Regions from separate parts of the Homo sapiens genome. Here all the other regions are reported to be linked to region 1. Evidence: microRNA targets listed by miRTarBase, many of them from high-throughput screens and not tested one by one. Region 1 holds a microRNA gene; each other region holds the end of a gene's coding sequence.

Region 1 (5,155 bases):
CACAAATAAGTGGGAAAGATTAGCATTGAGAATATGTTAAAAACAAAAAACAAAAAACCTCCTGCAAGCCAATGAGAAAATGACAACCTGATATATGGTTTGGCTGTGTCCCCACCCAAATCTCATATTGAATGTAAGCTGAATTGTAATCCCTATGTGTTGAGGTGTTAAGGGATCTTTGGGGTATCAATTGGCCAGAAACCTCTGTGGCTGGTGGCACCTTTGCTGAGGTCTTGTCCTGTGTCCAGGAAGAATGAGGTACACAGACAAGTGTAGGGTAAACACGATGAAGAGGAGGTTTATTGAGTGTTAGAATGCTCAGAAGAGACCTGTGGTGGATAGCTCCTCTCTGCAGGCAGGTCATCTCGTTGAGTGTTCAGCTTTCAGCAGAGAGGAGGCCCTGGGGTCTGTGGCTCCTCTCTGCTGGCAGGTTGTCCCATTAAGGGTTCAGCTCTCAAGAGAGAGGAGGCTCTAGAGAGGGTAACTCCTCTCTGCAGCTGGTCATCCTTGTCCTGTCAGGGGTTCAGCTCTCAACAGAGAGGAGGCCCTGGAGATGGTAGTTCCTCTCTGCAGGTGGTCATCCCAATGTCTGCTGCTTTCAACAGAGAGGAGGCCCTGGAGAGGGTAGCTCCTCTCTGCAGCCAGTCATCCTGATGTCTGCTGCTTTCAACAGAGAGGAGGCTCTGGAGAAAGTTGCTCCTCTCTACAGGCAAGTCTTCCTCTCTTCTTCCCAGCTCTCAGCAGAGAGGATAGCTCCTCTCTGAAGTTGGTCATCCCATCATCTCTCCATCCTCTACCCTGCTTTAGCTGAGCCTGGGGCTTTTACGGATGTCAGAGGGGAGGAAGTGTGTGTCAGTTGGTCCATGGGTGGCCATGGGCAGGCCTGAAAGGCACTGCAAGTCCCCACTTTGATCTGCGGGACTTACTGCTCAGCCCCCAGCCTTCAGGCCATCCCTGGCCTAAAGGTAGGGCCTTACTAGGGATCCACTCCCTTCAATCCAGGAGCCTGTCTGCCTCCTGCTGCCATCCATGGTGCCTATGGTGCCCAGGCTGCTTGCACCAAAAGGCACCTGCAGGCCAGTGCCAAGCCACCCTCAGCCCTCCCCCTCAGTTTCTCCTCTCATGCTCATTTTGCCCAAATTCTGGAGGAGGCCGAGGTAGCAGGGTACTGGCATGTCAGCACTGCCCCAAGCATGTGCACACCTGGCCAGGCTGTGCCAGTGCCCAGGATAGGCCCCAACCTGGCTCCAAGATTGGAGTAGGGTGCCAGGAGTGGAGAGGCCAGGCAGCAGGAGCAGACACTCTAGAGCCTGTGGGGCCAGGGGGTTGGGGGGGACTTCTGAGGCCCCCAAGAGTGAAGACTGCAGAGACTCTCGGGTCCTGCGCTTGGGAGGGTGGCCACAGCTGCACCTAGGGAACTCCCGCCTTGCCAACTCAAAAGGGGTGGGGCTCCCACTTGTCACCAGCTCCTGCCTGCCTCACGGAGTGTGCAGCCCTGGGGTGGTGCCTCCCTGCTGCAGCCTGCATGATGGCAGCGGCCACTGCCAACAGAGGGAGGAACCTGGTGGGAGGTGATTGGATCAAGGGGGCCAGTTTCCCCCGTGCTGTTCTCGTGGTAGTGAGTGAATTCTCATGAGATCTGGTTGTTTGATAAGTGGCTCTTTCTCCTTCTTTCTCTCTCCCTCTCCTACTGCCTTTTGAAGATGTGCCTTGTTTCCCTTTTGCCTTCTGCCATGATTATAAGTTTCCTGAGGCTTTCCCTGTGAGTCCATTAAACCCCTTTCTTTATAAATTACTCAGTCTCAGGTAGTATCTTTATAGCAGTGTGAAAACAGACTAATACACAACTCAATACGAAAATGGGCAAAGTAACTTAAATAGACACTTAATGAAACAGGAAATCTGAATGTCTAGACTGAATATTCAGTTTCACCAGGGAAGTAAAGGAACTATTTGTATTTATTTGTATGATTATTTGTAACTTGGGAAATACAAATGAAATAGATATCATTATATGCCCATTACATTGTTAAAATTGAAAAAAAGTCTGATAAGATCAAGTGCTAGCAAAGGCATGGAGTAATAGGAACTTTTACACTGCTGGTGGCAGTTCTAAGTGATGAAATTTCTTTGGCATAAATTCAGCATTATCTAATAACATTAATAATGCACATACCCTGTGATCCAGAAATGTTACTAGGTCTATACCTTAGAGAACTTATATAGGTGCAGCAGTGGACACATCAAGAAAGCCCATGGTAACATGGCTTGTGAAAGCAGAACAATAAGCAATGTCCATCAATAGTATAATGATACAGCAAAATACAAAACAATAGTAGAATGATACAGCAACAAAACCAAAAAAATCCATCTGCATAGATAAAACTGAGGACAATAATCTTGGGTAAAAAAGCAAGCTATAGACAAGTTGCTGAGTAGGAGAAGATATTTTCAAATCACACACCTGAAAAGGACTAGAATCTTGATTATATAAGAGCTCTCAAAACTCAATGGTAAAAAGAAAACAAGTAATCTACTAGAACATGGGCAAAACACATGAATAGATATTCCATAGTGTAAGTTATTCAAATGGCAAAAAAAATCCATGAAATATGTTCAACATAAGGGTAATGCAAATTAAAACCATGATAACATATCACTATGCATCTATCAGAATTGCTAAAATAAAAAAAAAATGAGAACACCCAACATTGGCAAGGATGTAGAGAAATAGGCTTGTTCATATATTGTTGATGGGATGTAAAATTGTAGATCTAGCCTAGAAAACAGAGGGCAGCTAATTATAAAACCCAGCATGCCTATGACCCAGCAGTAGCGCCCTCAGGTGTTTATCCCAGGGAAATAAAAACTTATGTCCACACAAAAACCTGGGGAGCTTTATTTGCAATAGCCAAGTGTTCACAGCAGCTTTATTTGTAATAGTCGAATATACTACAGTTTGTTTAACCATTCAAATATACCACAGTTTGTTTAACCTTTTGCCTGTTGGTTGAAGATGCCTTTCAACAGGTGACTGGTTAGACAAACTGTGGTATATACACAGGATGGAATACTACTCAGCAATAAACAAGCAACAAGCTATTGATTACAAACAACTTGGATGAATCTTTGGGGAATTATTATGAGTGAAAAAAGTCAATGCCAAAGGCTACATATGTATGATTACATTTATATAACATTTTGAAATGACAAATGTTACAGATAGAGAAGGGATTAGTGGTTGTTGAGGGTTAAGAATGTGGTGAGGTGGAGGGAGGTGGTTATAAAGGCACAACATGAAGGATCCTCATGGTGATGGACTGGCTGATGTCTTGACTTTAGTGATGGACACACACACACACACACAGACCACAAATGATACAAGTAAATTGGAGAAATCTGGGTAAGACTGGTGAGCTGTATCATGTCAATATCCTGGTTATGATATTGTACTAGTGTTTTAAAAATGTTATTGTATTAGTCTCTTCTCATGCTGCTGATAAAGACATACCTGAGACTGGGTAGTTTATAAAGGAAAAGAGGTTTAATGGGTTTACAGTTTCACATGGCTGAGGAGGCCTCACAATCATGGCAGAAGGTGAAAGGCACGTCTTACATGGTGGCAGATATGAGAGAAATGAGAACCAAGTGAAAGGGGTTTCCCCTTATAAAACCATCAGACCTTGTGAGACTTATTCACTACCATGAGAACAGTATGGGGGAAACCACCCCCGTGATTCAATAATCTCCCCCTGGGTCCCTCCCACAACACGTGGGAATTATGGGAGCTACAACTCAAGATGAGATTTGGGTGGGGACACAGCCAGACCATATCAGTTACCACTGGGGGAAACTGGATAAATGGTACACAGAATTGCATATGAATTTATAATTATCTCAATAACAAATTCTAATTAAAAATTATTAACTCTTTCACTCAAAAATTTCAGAAACAAATTTATCATAGCTTTGACTTGGCTACAAAAACCCCAAGCCATACAAACCTACATAACTGCAAGATTCTAGTCTTAGAGATCAAAAACGTATTAAACAATATATTGTTCAGGATATAAGGTGATAAAGAAAAAAAACATTGGAGAATGAATTCAGATTAGCATTTCTCTGGGTTACGAAGAGAGGCAATCAGATCAAAGAGGTCATGCTTGATGGTCACGCTTTCATTTCTAAACTGGATGGTGGGATACACGAATGTTCCCTTTATTGTTATTCTTTGTACAGCAGACATGTTTTATAAATATCTTTTGTACCCACTCAGTATTTAATGAAACCTTGTAGAAAGTCTTTGGTGTGTGTTGGTGTATATGTTGTGTGTGTATTTGTATTTGGCAATGTATGTTTCCACCTCCTGAGCCTGGCAAGCTCTTTCCTGCCACAGGACCTTTGCACTTGCTATAACCTCTTCTGAGAACTCTCCTTCTTTGGTTCTTCAAAGATTGTGGTCCCACCTCAGCTCAGGCAAGTGAAGTGAAGAGACTTTCAGATCAATGCGTATGCATCCTGAATGGTCTTGTTTGTTGATTCATGTATCTGCCTCTTCTGACTAGAATGTAAGTTCCCTGACGTCAGAGAGCTCCTCTAACTTATTCAACCATTACCTAGACGTGGGTTGACAGACTGAACGAATGCATATTTATGCATATGAATTTAGGGTCTAAAAAAAGCATGCCAATTGAAAGTGTTGGCTTCCTAAGAATTTCTTTGGGCTACTGACTATTTTACTCTTTAATAGTATCATGGTAAACTGGGGGTTAAATTGCTTTTGCAATTATTGAAGGTCTGAGTGAAGGGAGTTACGTAGAATAACAAGGGGCATGTCTTTGAAGGACACAGGTAACAGCAAAGAACAAGTTTAAAAGAGTTAAACACATTCTAGCTAAAGAGGGAATAAGTTTAAATTGGGTTATTTTCCCTGGAGATTATTGCAATTTTAAGAGTAATGCTGCTTCCAAGAATGTTAGCTTTTCTCTTGGTGACCATGGATATAACAGTGTGTGGGTCCGTCATTAATCAGGATAAGGCATTACAGATCTGGGTCCTATTACCCTAAGTTTGTTTGTAAAATGGATTTCTTTGCAGGCAGCACTGACGTGTGACCATGTGATGTTTGGATTGTGCTTCAGAGCAGGGGATGGCT
Region 2 (5,155 bases), not on the chromosome of region 1:
GTATTTGTATGATTCCATTTATTAGAATTGTTTTCATATAAATGTTGAAAATTTTCAGTTTATGAAATAGGTGTTATTTGATGTAATTCTCATAGCAAAGCATTACACGTAATTTAAAGGAAGAATTAAAAATTATTCCTGCCAAAGTAAACTGTATTTGATTATAAAGAAACAAGTTTTAGAAAGGTTAAGTACAAAAAATAATTGTTTAAGATTCAATAATTTTTGACTGCCACAGACATATACTAACAAACAAGGTAAATCTCTCATGAGGCATTTGAAGAAAACAGTTGGCTATCTAGCTGAGCAAATTCAGAAAGGGGGAATTATGTGAAAATTTAGAAAGTTAATGTGGAATTTAGAAAGTTAATGGTAACTTGTTCTGTAATCGTTTTAATATAATCAATTTCTTCATGTCTTTAGGAACTGGATAATTTCTGTAACCCCATCATTTACAAGCCCAAACCAAAAGCAGAAGTTCCTGAAGACAAACCAAAAGCTAATAGTGAACACAATGGCCCAATGGATGGACAGAGTGGAACTGAAACTAAATCAGATTCAACAAAAGACAGCTCACAGCATACTAAATCCTCTGGAGAGATGGAAGTGGACTAAGTCTTAATTTTACCTTCACATTAATTCAAACCGTGCAAGTAACCACGGGGTCCATCTTTTACATCTGGTACACACAACAGACGCTCAGTTGTTCTTAACCACTTTTGTCATTTGTTTTTTGGAGTAGTTTTGAAAAGTGTTTTATATTGAGTGCACTTCTGTTCATTTCCATTGCTGCTTATATGCAGTGTTAGCCGAATTAGATTTACAAGACAATCTAAGCTTTCCGGATAATTTTATATATCAAACATACAGGATGGATACATAGTTGGCAACAGTCTACCTTATTTAAAGCTTCTACTGGGATAAACCTCAATTCCTTTATTCAGGAAAGGATACTTTATTGCATTATTGTTGCAGAAGCATAGATTTAATTGCATCTTTATTTTGAAAAACAAATGAAAATTGATGGGGTTTAAAGCTACAGAGGCACTGACCTTTTTCTAGTTATTGTATTGCTACAATTTAAATATTAAAACAAATAAGAGCTTTCTCAACAAATTAGTCCATCTCATTGATGTACCACAGAAATCCAAAGCTTTGCTGTCATCACATAAATGAATTAAATCACATGTGAAAGGGAACACACCCAATTTTATGTTAAGGTGAAACCAGCAGTTTGCTTCTTTTATTAGTAATGTGGATTGATGTTTTCTCAGAGTAACTCGTTGTCTTTTCGCTTGAAATTTTTGATCTTGTCCTGAAGACTAGCTGCTGCTAAAACAATGCTAGCCTAAAGATACAGGAGTCTCTGACAAAATGACTTTCATGTTAAGGGGAAATGCTGTTTATCTACTCAGACATGCATCTGTGATGTTCATAGCCTTGTTTCAGTTATAATAGTTGTCTTGTTTTTTTCTTAATTGATTTTGTTAATAATACCTTAACACAGGGTAGGAAGAAGTGGCACAGTGTATTGCATTATATACATTTATCATTGATTTACCTAATGTTACCTTGTAGATTAAACACTATTAAGTGGTAATACTTGAAAAGGAGCACTTATACCATAAGTCTTAGGAAATAATGTTTGTAATAAACTTAACTATGTTACATATCAACAGGCAAAAATATAGAATGTTACATAGTGTTGTGTGATTAAATTATAGTTCCTGCTGTTAACATTACCTTTTGAAACCTTGGCTCCAGTTTTGGTGCTTCTTATACAAATTAAATGCGAAAAGGGACTGTAAACTTAAGATGTATTTTAAGGACTTTATCTGTGCTTCATCACCCAACTTGTTCACATTGTTAATTTCTGTCCAGAGACCTGAAACTGCTTAAGTATGGGAACAGACTGAAATGGTGTTTCAACCTGCAAGAGACAGAAGCATAGACAAGTATATGAGCCCTTATGTCCTTAATGCCAATCAACTAGATTGACCTAGGTTAAAATTTCAAAAGGCTCATTTTCTCCCAAAGCTAAATCTTTATATTAGGAACAATTAAATATTGACTTAAGTTGTAAAAATTGAGAGTACAATATCTTTAGGGATAGTCATTATTTCTCACAACTAGTTCTCTACGAGAGATTTTGTTTCTACAATGTAGTCAGCACTTAATGGAGAGTATGGAGTAGTGCATTTTGCAGGGATTTTTATTCCGTCTTTTGAGGGGAAGAATCTCTTTTTTGCATTAAAAAATCATATAAACTTAATATATTTTTAAACTCTCCTAGTCTTTAAACTTTCTCTTAATTCTCTTAAAATGAAATAGGTATATCCAATAGGTGATGAAATACATTTTTTACAAACATAGATGCTTTTTATTTGTATGTTGAATGTACAGATTCATTTCAAGAAAAGCATGAAGATAATGAAAGCAAATATGTAACAATACAAGTAGGGACTTTAGAGCTTCTATTTGGGTTAAAACATCCACTCACTTGGTTAGGAGCTATGCCTCAGAAACTTCCTGGGAGTAAATATGGGAACAACTTTTCTATTAATACATCTAAATTTTCTAGTATATCCTGACATTTTCCATTCCTGCTCTGAAGTCACTTTTAGTTTTGTGTTTTAGTCAGATAGTACCACTAATTTTTGTAATTATATAACACTTCATTTAATAACTTATATACATCCAAATATATATACTTTTTCTACCCAATTATTCAACTTAAAAGATTTCAAAAACGATTTAGCCTTATAATGTATTTATTTATTTAATTCATTAATGAAAGAGAGTGCTCTCTTTAATGCAGCTTTGGGTAGACAGTCTAATTCAGTCCAATTTTAATCTGCATTAAAATATGCAATGCTAGACAAAGATTTTCAAAATAAAAAGCTATTATTTCAGAAATTATTTTAAAAGATGCATAGTAAAACAGTGTTTTCCTATGGTAAGCAAATAAGAATGAAGTTTGTAGGGAATATTTGGAATGATTAATATAAATTAGTATACTTTGGCTCTGTGGAAAAGTGTAAATTGTGGTTTTAGAAACCAACTCTTGATAGTTGTACTGTGATTATAAAAAACAATTGTTAAATAATATAATGGAAGTTTGTGATAATTCCTTAGCAGTAATGTAAAATTATTAAGTTTTGGCCAGGCGCTGTGGCTCACGCCTGTAATCCTAGCACTTTGGGAGGCCAAGGCAGGCAGATCACCTGAGGTCAGGAGTTCAAGACCAGCCTGGCCAACATGGTGAAACCCTGTCTCTACTAAAAATACAAAAAAGTAGCCGGGCGTGGTGGCATGTCCCTGTAATCTCAGCTACCCGGGAGGCTCAGGCAGGAGAATCGCTGGAACCCAGGAGGCAGAGGCTGCCGTTAGCTGAGATCGTGCTCCTGCACTCCAGCCTGGGCAACAGAACAAGACTCCGTCTCAAAAAAAAAACAAAAATTCTTCCAAAAAACTAGAAAGAGCACAGCAAAGAATTTGGCTATTGAAATAACAGATAAACTTGATTTTGAAAAGGATAACAAGGCTGGGCACAGTGACTCACACCTGTAATCCTAGCACTTTGAGAGGCTAAGAAGGGAGGATCACTTGAACCCAGGAGTTCAAGACCAGCCTGAGAAACATAGTGAGACCCTGTCTCTAAAAAAATAAAAACTTAGCAAGGCATGGTGGTGCACACCTGTAGTCCTAGCTACTCAGGAGGCTGAGGTGGAGGATCACTTAAGCCTGAGAGGTCAAGGTTGCAATGAGCCATAATCATACCACTGCACTCCAGCCTGGGCAACAGAGTGAGGCCCTGTCTCAAACACATAAAAGGCAGTGGCCCACGCCTGTAATCCCAGCACTTTGGGAGGCCAAGGCGGGCAGATCACGAGGTCAGGAGATCAAGACCATCCTGGCTAACACGGTGAAACCCCGTCTCTACTAAAAATACAAAAAATTAGCTGGGCATGGTGGCGGGCGCCGGTAGTCCCAGCTACTCAGGAGGCTGAGGCAGGAGAATGGTGTGAACCCAGGAGGCGGAGGTTGCAGTGAGCCGAGATCGCGCCACTGCACTCCAGCCTGGGCAACAGAGCAAGACTCCATCTCAAAAACAAAACAAAACAAAAACATAAAAGGAAAACAAGACATTTACTAAGAAGAGCTAAAGGAAAGAATTAAAGGTTTCTTATGCTTTTTTGGGGGGGGGTGTCAATTTTTAGTATATTAAGAGCTAAAAGAAGTAAAGGTTTCTTAGACTTTTTTTGGGAGGGAGGCGTCAATTTTTAGTATATTTGTGATTAATTCCATGATAGAAGTCTTTAAAGAGAATTTTGGGGCTCAATAATTTAACATAATGTCAGTGTTAAAGCACTTAATCCAAATTAGCCCATCTTTAACTGTTTTGAAAAATCTATATTTATTAAAGGTAGTAGACATTTGAATATAGTAATCAAATTAACTGATTTTGTTTTCACCCTAAATACATACAACCATTCCTCCACTTTCATAAATTTGACAAATAATAAGCCTCTCCCATTAGGATTTTCTGTTTTATAGTAAATAGTTGGTATTTGGTAGTCCACAATTAAAGTCATTGCATTAATTTTACAAATTATAGATTTAGAAATGATTCTTAAGTTATTGGTAAAATATAACTTTCTCAGTTTTTAAAAGTTTACAAAATTTTTTTTTTTGTTTTGAGACAGAGTATGGCTTTGTTACCCAGGCTGGATTGCAATGGGGTGATCTAGGCTCACTGCAGCCTCCACCACCTGAGTTCAAGCGATTTTTCTGCCTCAACCTCTCCTGAGTAGCTGGGACTACAGGTGCATGACACCACACCCAGCTAATTTTTGTATTTTTATAGAGATGGAGTTTTGCCATGTTGGCCAGCCTGGTCTTGAACTCTTGAACTCCTGACCTCAGGTAATCCACCCACCTCAGACTCCCAAAGTGCTGGGATTACAGGCGTGAGCCACCATACCCGGCCAAAAATTTTTGCTTTTAAAGTTAATGTTATTTTGTGGTTAAACTTCTAAAGTTTTGAACTGTAAGCAGAATTTTGTTTTGTGATATTTTATTGTATAAACTGTTAATGAGAGGCACAGCTAATTGTACATATCAATATACATTTAAAATCTGGTAACACTGGTTA
Region 3 (5,155 bases), not on the chromosome of region 1:
ACTGCGCTCGGCCCTTTCTGTGCTTTTAAAGAACATAATACTATGGTAGCTATATTGCTGACATGAAAGAACACAACTTTAATTTTGTCTTAGAATACTGTGGCATATAAATTAGAATTCAGAATTATGTATGTTATCCTCACTTTAGATAATACAACTGTTAAAATCTTTTTGACTTAATTTTACTTACAAATAGTTAATTATAAAAGCTTTGTAGAAGAAATGTTATATGTTGAACTGTTATTCTATTTTGTTTAGGAGAGAAGAACATCCAAAAAGACCCTCAGGAGAACATTTTTCTTTGTCAGGCATTACGGACCTTTTTTCCAAATTCTGAATTTCTTCATTCATGTGTTATGTCTTTAAAAAATAGACATGTTTCTAAAAGTAGCTGTAACTACAACCACCATCTCGATGTAGTAGACAATCTGACCTTAATGGTAGAACACACTGACATTCCTGAAGCTAGTCCAGCTAGTACACCACAAATCATTAAGCATAAAGCCTTAGACTTAGATGACAGATGGCAATTCAAGAGATCTCGGTTGTTAGATACACAAGACAAACGATCTAAAGCAGATACTGGTAGTAGTAACCAAGATAAAGCATCCAAAATGAGCAGCCCAGAAACAGATGAAGAAATTGAAAAGATGAAGGGTTTTGGTGAATATTCACGGTCTCCTACATTTTGATCCTTTTAACCTTACAAGGAGATTTTTTTATTTGGCTGATGGGTAAAGCCAAACATTTCTATTGTTTTTACTATGTTGAGCTACTTGCAGTAAGTTCATTTGTTTTTACTATGTTCACCTGTTTGCAGTAATACACAGATAACTCTTAGTGCATTTACTTCACAAAGTACTTTTTCAAACATCAGATGCTTTTATTTCCAAACCTTTTTTTCACCTTTCACTAAGTTGTTGAGGGGAAGGCTTACACAGACACATTCTTTAGAATTGGAAAAGTGAGACCAGGCACAGTGGCTCACACCTGTAATCCCAGCACTTAGGGAAGACAAGTCAGGAGGATTGATTGAAGTTAGGAGTTAGAGACCAGCCTGGGCAACGTATTGAGACCATGTCTATTAAAAAATAAAATGGAAAAGCAAGAATAGCCTTATTTTCAAAATATGGAAAGAAATTTATATGAAAATTTATCTGAGTCATTAAAATTCTCCTTAAGTGATACTTTTTTAGAAGTACATTATGGCTAGAGTTGCCAGATAAAATGCTGGATATCATGCAATAAATTTGCAAAACATCATCTAAAATTTAAATTTGTCCTACATTTGTACTTGCTAAATCTGGCAGCCTTAATTATTACACAACTATAACACAACACAAACAGTAATCTCTCCCCTAGTTTAGAGTCCTTTGCATGAAATTTAGCAAATCTATCATTTTGAATACAGTACAAGCCTGGTAATCCAGTGTATTTGGGATAGGCCAGTGGAACTCAGAACTGATACATATATACATGTATGTCTATCATATTCAATGTCTATTAGGTGTAAATCATCTCTTCATGTAAAAGACACTACTGGTTTGAGGGTAGACTCGTCTAGGAATATTTTGTCCTTCTGTGACAGCACCACTATCCATCCCAATGTAACATTTCTACAAAGGGAAGATATCTTAACCAGGCATACTTATATTTGCTAGTTGGAAAATCATTCTGAACAGTTTTAATTCCATTCTATTGAATGGATTATTGTATGAGCTATTTGGGGATCAGATATAAATGACAATCACACAGAACCACTTTTATTCAACATAGATAAAATGTGATGAGTGTTAACATTTTAAATAAGCAATCTGCTTAATGGACATTGGTATGAAGGGGAAGTGTCATTCTTTACCTCACTCCTCAAACACTTTTCTATCCAAAGGTTGGTTTGAGTCAGTATTGGCATCATACAACCACTTACTGTAAAATAAGTTTATTAGTGGTAACGTGATAGAATTTATTCCCGATATCTGATGTTACAAACTTTAGGGTCCTTGAGATATGCAGGATCCTTGTATGTAACTGGCATAAACCCTGTAAAGAGATAATTAAAGTTCTTGACAAAACATAATGAGCAAAATTTCAGCTAGCTCAATTCAGTTGTTGAGGTATTCTTTCTTACCCATTATTTGAGCTCTCTTAATTGCTTTTGTGATTTCTTTCTGTTTCTTCCCACAAAGACCTGTAAAATAAAAAGCTTTCTTATTCATAAAAAATGTCAATATTTAAAGTTTGCAATTTTTTTTTTTGAGATGGAGTCTCCCTGTGTCACCCAGGCTGGAGTACAGTGGTGCTCTCTCGCCTCACTGCAACCTCCGCCACCCAGGCTCAATCGATTATCTTGCCTCAGCCTCCTTAGTAACTGGAATTACAGGCATGCACCGCCACACCCGGATAATTTTTTTGTATTTGTAGTAGAAACGGGGTTTCACCATATTGGCCAGGCTGGTCCTGAACTCCTGGCCTCAGGTGATCTGCCCACCTCAGCCTCCCAAAGTGCTGGGATTACAGGTGTGAGCCAACATGCCCAGCCTCAACAAGTTTTTAAGTCAAGGATTGGTAAATCATTTTTGTCAAGGGCCACAATAATAATCTAGGTTTTGTGGGCCATACAGTCTCCATCACTGCCACTCAACTCTGCTGTTGTAGCTCGAAAACAACCATATGGCACTACGTAAACAAAACTACAAAAACAAGTGGGGTTGGGTGCAGTGGCTCACACCTGTAATCCCAGCACTTTGGGAGGCCTAGGCAGGTGGATCACCTGAGGTCAGGAATTCAAGACCAGCCTGGCCAACATGGAGAAACCCAATCTCTAAAAATACAAAAATTAGCCAGGCGTGGTGGTGCATGCCTGTAATCCCAGCTATTCGGGAGGCTGAAGCATGAGAATCACTTGAACCCAGGAGGCAGAGGTTGCAGTGAGCCGAGATTGTGCCACAGCACTCCAGCCTGGGTGACAGTGAGATTCCATCTCAAAAAAAAAAAAAAGTGGCATTTGTATATGATGAACCTAATCAAGATAAAAAGGGAGCAGGTCGAATTTGGCCTATGGGCCATAGTTTGCTGACACCAAGTTTAAGTATCAATCTAGGAATGATTATAGTATATTCCAAAACATCAACAACAGTTTTTTAAAGCCCAGTTTTTCTATATAGTTAACTCTGCATAAGACAGCAAAATAATAATCCTCTTGGCCTAAGAGACTTTTTCATAGTAACTAGCTCTAGTCCCTGTAGTATCTGATCTAGTAGTAATTTATAGCACAATTTGAAAATTTGAGTTTTCTTAAATGATAGAAATAGATTGATATAATTCGTATCTACATTTATATTCCCATAATAAAAAAGAACATACCTGTAATGTGCCTTCCATAAATGCATCCAGTAAATGGAGAAACAAACTGGGACAAAAGCTGTTTTGGAGTTTTATGTGGAGGGGAAAAAAAAGTATCTGTTATTTATTTCTGAATGTGTAAATTTCAAAAAACAACCTTCAGGTTATATAAAGCTTTACTAAATTTCAGACACATTTCATAAAATATAAGAAAAAAATATTGTTATCCTCCTGTTACCTTTTAAATATTTTCTATCCAGTGTGTCAAGTCTATATATAATTAAACAGCAGATTAATCAGCATATTCATTCAATGGTAAATCTGTTTTCTTGACTTCCACAGATACCTTTCTAAAATATTGCTTGAAACAAGCTACTAAAAAATTTCATCTATCCTGACAAGCTATCACATTACCCTCTGATAATCATTAAGATAAATTATCAGGGGGTAATGAGATTTTCAAGAGGTACAAGTACACCAGGCATTTGCTATAATTTATGTTTTATTTAAATACTTCTTTAGAACCTTTCTAGGTGCTAGTCATTATTCTTGGCACTTTGCATAATCTTCCTAGTATGTGTGTTTTTGTAATTCTTGGTTCTTCCTCAAAGGCAGCTATCACTTTATACTATTGTCAATATATGGAATTCTTTTTTTTTTTTTTTTTTTTTTTTGACAGAGTTTTACTCTTGTCACCCAGGCTGGAGTGCAATGGCACGATCTCAGCTCACTGCAACTTCCGCCTCCTGGGTTCAAGCAAATCTCCTGCCTCAGCCTCCCAAGTAGCTGGGATTACAGGCATGCACCACCACACTCAGCTAATTTTTGTATTTTTAATAGAGACGGGGTTTCACCACATTGGCCAGGCTGGTCTCAAACTCCTGACCTCAGGTGATCCGCCCGCCTTGGCCTCCCAAAGTGCTGGGATTACAGGCGTGAGCCACCACACCCAGCCAACATACAGAATTCTAGCGCTATTCACTTGCCCCAAATTTGCAACTTCTAACTTGCTGAGAGTTAGACAAGAGATAAGTAATATGTGAATCAGTGATATGGGTGGTGAGATAAAGAGATCAGCTTCACCAGATGAGCTTTTTCCAAAGTTCTGACCCTCACCAATTGAGAATTACTGCCACAGGGAGCTATTAAGATGTTTGGGGTAGTGAAAAAAACAGAGTGGAAATAACAGTAAGTGGGGGAAAGCCAAGGTGCTTTTACTTGAATAAAGCAGAGATAAGCTTATACATAGAATTATAACCAAATTTGAAATTATGAAGTTGCTAAAACAGTTACCTCTACAAAAGCCTGCTATAAACTGACTTGATTCTCTTTAAGCAGATCTATCAGAAGCAAAACCCTAAAATATAGTGAAGTAAAACCAGATCTCACCTGTACATTCTTATAATCTACATGCTTTCCACACAAGATACATTTCTTAAGAGGTTCTTTATAAGGATTTTCCATTGAAATGGGCTAGGGAAAAAAACGAAAAGTCTGATAATAGGATGTGTTAATTCTGAATTTTAAAAGGTTACTATTCTACATTCAAATCCATTCAAAGGATTAGTTATACCTTTCTTACTGTGTACATATTTTGTATAAGCACTTTATTTTGTTTTAGTTTAGCCTACGGATTAACGCATGGGAAGATTCTGGAATAAAGTACAATCTTCATAGAATAAAATTTTATGGCAGAACAAAAATGATGTCTGATAAGAAAGTGTTCCAATGCTTTGCTCAGATTGTAGATAATGAAAAAATTTTTAGATTTAAGGAAACTTACAACACAATAGATAACATATGCCATTCTTAA
Region 4 (5,155 bases), not on the chromosome of region 1:
GGTGATGAGGCAGAGAAACCTAAGGATTTAACTCTGGGAGCTCAACATGTCCTCCTGTTCCCACCTCATGTGGGAACAATCTTCCCTTCAAGATCTTTATTTTCAAAAGCAAGAAACTCTCACCTGGAGTCAGTTTAAGGTTCTGCCCTAAACTGTCAACTTTATAAACCCTTCTTCTAGGAGACAACCCAAATGAGACTTAGTCTCTAAGTCTCACCTTGACAGATTGTCTTTTTTTTTTTTTTAATTTTTGAGACAGAGTCTTGCTCTGTCAACCAGGCTGGAGTACAGTGGTGTGATCTCGGTTCACTGCAAACTCTGCCTCCCAGGTTCAAGCGATTCTCCTGTCTCAGCCTCCCAAGAAGCTGGGATTACAGGCGAGCGTGACCACACCTGGCTAATTTTTGTATTTTTAACAGAGACAGGGTTTCACCATGTTGGCCAGGCTAGTCTCAAACTCCTAACCTCAGGTGATCCGCCTGCCTCGGCCTCCCAAAGTGCTGGGATTACATGGGCCTTTGGTGTTCTTACACACACACACAGACACACACACACACACACACACACACACACACACACAAGCTCCTTCCCCACCCCAGTCACAAAGATACTCTCCTACATCTGATGCTAACTTTGTATTTTTGCTTTTCATCATTTTAGTGTTAATTTTCACATATGATATGAGATAAAGGTCTCAGTTCATCTTTCTGCAGGTTAATATCCAGTTGTCCCAGCACCATGTTGAAAACGCTTTCCCCATTATCTTGGGGCATTTGTAGAAAATCAACAGACCATAAATGAAGATTATTTCTGGTCTCTCTATTCTGTTCTACTGGTCTATGTCTAACATTATACTAGTAAATCTGGCTAATCTACTACCTGCCCTGTTGATGGATGGCCCCATTTCATTCCACATGATTGCCTTGCAGGTCCAGAAATGGTTTCAGAGCCAGGAGAAAATCTCTTTATTATTATTTAACTTACACTGTTATTTATTTTGAGACAGGGTCTCACTCTGTCACCCAGGCTGGAGTACAGAGGCATGATCATAGCTCACCACAGCCTCAAACTCCTGGGTTCAAGTTATCCTCCCACCCAGTAACTGGGACTACAAGCACATGTCAGCATGCCTGGCTAATTTTTTTTTTTTTTTTTTTCTGAGACAGGGTCTTGCTCTGTTGCCTAGGCTGGCGTGCAATGGCACAATCATGGCTCACTCCAATCTCACCCTGCCAAGCTCAAGCAATCCTTCCACCTCAGCTTCCCGAATAGCTGAGACTACAGGCGTGCACCACTACCCCAACTAATTTTTAAAATTATCTGTAGACACATGGTCTCCCTATGTTGCTGAGACTAGTCTCAAATTCCTAGACTCAAGTGATCCTCCTGCCTTAGCCTCCCAAAGTGTTGGGATTACAGGCTTGAGCCACCATGCCTGGGCCCCTGGCTATGAGAATCTGGGAAGCACTCCAACCACAAGTAAATAGTTCATCCACACCTGGATACTCCAAAATCACTGCACCCTGGATACACTGACTGTCTGCCCAGCAAGGAGAGTGAGCGACCACTGCTGGAAAATACTGCTTTTATGTGCATGACATGAGAAAAATTGTGTCTAGTTTACACATTCTAAAAAAGAAGGCCGGGCACAGTGGCTCACGCCTGTAATCCCAGCACTTTGGGAGGCCAAGGCAGATGGATCACAAGGTCAGGAGATTGAGACCATCCTGGCTAACACGGTGAAACCCTGTCTCTACTAAAAATACAAAATTAGCCAGGCATGGCGGCGGGTGCCTGTAATCCCAGCTACTCGGGAGGCTGAGGCAGGAGAATCACTTGAACCCAGGAGGCAGAGGTTGCAGTGAGCCGAGATAGCACCATTGCACTCCAGCCTGGGCAACAAGAGTGAAACTCCATCTCAAAAAATAAAATAAAATAAAATAAGAGATGGAGTCTCACTATGTTCCCCAGGCTGGTCTTGAACTCCTGGCCTCAAGCGATCCTCCCACCTCAGCCTCCCAAAGTGCTGGAATTACAGATGTTGTGTCACCACACCTGGCCAATAGTTATAAATGTTATAACATTTCTTTGATGATGCAAATTTTCTGGAGCACTATACATGAGTTAATTTGGATTGGATTTTCCCAAATTACTTACATTATGGGATTTCTCCCCAATGAGCACTGGGATGAGGAGACTTCAATCCACCAAAGTTGTATATATATATATCCATGGAGGTGATACTTAGGTCATCTCATCAGAAAACACTCATACTTGTCCACAAATAGATGTTGCATATGGCATTAGTACCATCCTCAGAAATTTATATATATTTGCAAGAAATATTATTTTAAGTCAATAGTATATGCTATCATGAATACAGGATATGCTCACTCCATAAGCAGCAAATTGACTCCTTCACAGTTTTAATAGATTTCCAGTTGTTTTGTCTTCAGTCTCCTAAGAAGACAATGCTATAATCTCCAACCACATTATTTGCTTCTTCCATCCCATTCTTCATATTGATCATTGTTGTGTGACATTAGTTGACTACTGTAATGATAAATAACTAGGGTAAAATAGATACATTTGCTCTTTCTTAGGTTCCATTCCTCCTTTCAGTGGGAAGCCTCACACACACTCTCATCATGCTCTGCTATGAAACATAGCTTAACCAAGAATCGTATATCCAGCAAAGCTCATGTTCAATACAAAACAAAAATTTAATTTTTCTGTTATGCTGATGAAAAAGTGTAAGTGATGTTCTTGCCTTCTAACACTGTTATCGCTGCCACAGCCACTTGGTCAAGGATCATCAAGCAGATTAAGGCAATTTACACCCATTTCAACTTTTTTTTTTTCTTCTTGAGACCGAGTCTCACTCTGTCACCCAGACTGGAGTGCAGTGGTAGGATCTTGGCTCACTGCAACCTCTGCCTCCTGGGTTCAAGTGATTCTCCTGCCTCAGCCTTCCAAGTAGCTGGGACTACATGCGCATGACACCAGGCCCAGCTAATTTTTGTATTTTTAGTAGAGATGGGGTTTCACCATGTTGACCAGGCTGGTATCAAACTTTTGACCTCAAGTTGATCCATCTGCCTCAGCCTCCTAAAGTGCTAGGATTACAGGTGTGAACAAGTGTGCCCAGCCCCACCTCAATATTTATACAATTTATGTTGCCTTGATTCTAACCCTGACTGTACCACAGTGTACTTATGGAAGAGCTTCACAATTGCAGATGCAACTGTGCTTACTGCAGAGGCTGTAGATGCCCTAAAGCCCAGGACACCCAAAGCATATTGGAAGCCATTGGAGTGAGGGAGTAAGTGATTTCAGGGGTTTCCCCAAGACTGATACAGCAGTCAGGAATATCTTAAATGTTGCAAAGAAAGTTGGTGGAAAGGAAACTGAAGATATACTGAAATCCTCTACAAGTGATGATGATGATGATGATGATGATGATGATGCTGCTGATGATGCAGAAGATTAAGAAGAGGAGCAGTGCCATTGATTTGGACACGCGAAAAATTTGCAGCAGATCTTGGGGCATCTATAGCCTCTGCAAGTTGCAAGTGTTAAAGATAATCAACCTCAGCTAACATCCTTTGATTGAAAAAAGCTTCTGTGTCATATAAGGGAAAATATGCTAATGAACACTAAGGTTTTTTTAGGGATTCAAAGAAAAAGAACTAGCTTCCTAAAACAATGCTTCTAACTAAATATCTGCAAATATGAAGACATACCCTTCAACACAAACATCTTCAGCCCTCAAGCTGAACAGATGCTGACATTAGTATTAGCCTCCTGCAAAGAGTCAACATCTTCAATCAGAACCTGGGTCTTCCAACATAGATGAAGGTCTTGATGTCCTGTCAAGATTCAAGTTAGCCTGAGGTCTCACTGTTTATCTATGATGCCACACATCTAGTCACCTCTACACATCACATTAGGCACCATACAGCAATCATCATTGTCATAACCATCGTAATACTTGGGTTATCAAGAGAGAAGAACCAGAATTGTGGTTGGTGTTAACACATTCTTTCAGGTCATTAGACAAAAGTAATCTGAGTATTGAAACAAGAAACTGTAACATTATAGGTGATATATACGATGTAGATAGGCCTGCAATGGTTGGGTCTGTACTGAACACATATAGATTTTTTTTCTTATGATTCCCTAAACAATACAACTATGTACACAGCTTTTACAATGCATGAGATATTTTAATTAATCTAGACATTTATAGAGTATACAGGAGAATGTGGGTAGGTACATGCGAATATTCCATTTTATAAAAGAGCTGGCATCTGTGGATTTAGGTATACTCAGGGTGTACTGGAACCAATCTTCTTGCATATAGCAGGCAGCAACTCTATTTGAAAGAAATGGAAACTTTTTTTTTTTTTTTTGAGATGGAGTCTCGCTCTAGCACCCAAGCTGGAGTGCAGTAGTGCAATCTCGGCTCACTGCAACCTCCACCTCCCGGGTTCAAGGGATTCTCCTGCCTCAGCCTCCTGAGTAGCTAGGACTACAGGTGTGAGCAACTATGCCTGGCTATTTTTTTTTTTTTCCGTATTTTTAGTAGAGACAGGGTTTCCCATGTTAGCCAGGCTGGTCTCGATCTCCTGGCCTCGTGATCTGCCCTCCTCGGCCTCTCAAAGTGCTGGGATTACAGGTGTGAGCCGCTGCGCCCAGCCTGGAAACTTCTTAAGGCTTTACCACGTTTACATTCACAGGATTTATTTCTTTCAAGTATCTGAATGTGATAAAACCAATGAATGCTTTCCCACATTCCATACACTTATAGAATATCCTTCCAGTGTGTCCTTTTATGTCTATTAAAGGAACTGAGAGAACTGAAGGCTTTCCCACATTCCTTACATTCATAGGGCTTCTCTCCAGTGTGAGTTCTTTCATGTTCTCGACAGAAACTGGAACGACTGAAGGCTTTACCACAGTGTTTACATTCATAGGGTCTTTCTCCAGTGTGAGTCCTTTCATGTCTTAGAAGGAAAGAGGGCCAAAAGAATGCTTTCCTGCATTGCTTACATTCATATGGCTTCTCTGCCGTGTGAGTCCTTTCATGAGTTTTTAAGTAACTGAAACGACTGAAGGCTTTGCCACAAATTTGACACTCATAAGATTTTTCTTC

Evidence for each region. Region 1 holds the annotated microRNA hsa-miR-552-3p (AACAGGUGACUGGUUAGACAA, at 3,026-3,046, shown strand). A microRNA usually pairs through its seed, bases 2 to 8, with sites in the 3' UTR of a target mRNA and lowers its output. Matches are read on the target gene's strand: a 7mer-m8 pairs with bases 2 to 8, a 7mer-A1 pairs with bases 2 to 7 and ends in A, and an 8mer does both.
Region 2: the mRNA of HSPA4L is a reported target of hsa-miR-552-3p. Seed matches in the 3' UTR shown: 8mer at 3,562-3,569 and 8mer at 3,695-3,702.
Region 3: the mRNA of ABRAXAS1 is a reported target of hsa-miR-552-3p. Seed matches in the 3' UTR shown: 7mer-m8 at 808-814, 8mer at 988-995, 7mer-A1 at 2,187-2,193, 8mer at 2,726-2,733 and 7mer-A1 at 3,362-3,368.
Region 4: the mRNA of ZNF44 is a reported target of hsa-miR-552-3p. Seed matches in the 3' UTR shown: 8mer at 4,674-4,681 and 8mer at 4,533-4,540.

What each region holds. Positions count from the first base shown.
Region 1 is chr1:34,667,505-34,672,659 of GRCh38, reverse strand. MIR552 (microRNA 552) reads left to right here and starts at 2,966; the gene lies at 2,966-3,061. All of the region lies in intron 1 of LOC105378641 (a long non-coding RNA gene), which reads left to right.
Region 2 is chr4:127,832,260-127,837,414 of GRCh38, forward strand. HSPA4L (heat shock protein family A (Hsp70) member 4 like) reads left to right here. Exons shown (of 19, transcript NM_014278.4): 19 at 424-5,155. The coding sequence ends at 615. Among named protein-coding and RNA genes, the nearest start is that of PLK4, 46 kb to the right of the region's middle.
Region 3 is chr4:83,458,006-83,463,160 of GRCh38, reverse strand. ABRAXAS1 (abraxas 1, BRCA1 A complex subunit) reads left to right here. Exons shown (of 9, transcript NM_139076.3): 9 at 259-3,644. The coding sequence ends at 692. MRPS18C (mitochondrial ribosomal protein S18C) reads right to left here. Exons shown (of 6, transcript NM_016067.4): 3 at 4,732-4,815; 4 at 3,364-3,421; 5 at 2,129-2,188; 6 at 863-2,040. The coding sequence ends at 1,964. Among named protein-coding and RNA genes, the nearest start is that of MRPS18C, 4.5 kb to the right of the region's middle.
Region 4 is chr19:12,267,603-12,272,757 of GRCh38, forward strand. ZNF44 (zinc finger protein 44) reads right to left here. Exons shown (of 4, transcript NM_016264.4): 4 at 4,206-5,155. The coding sequence ends at 4,805. Among named protein-coding and RNA genes, the nearest start is that of ZNF44, 25 kb to the right of the region's middle.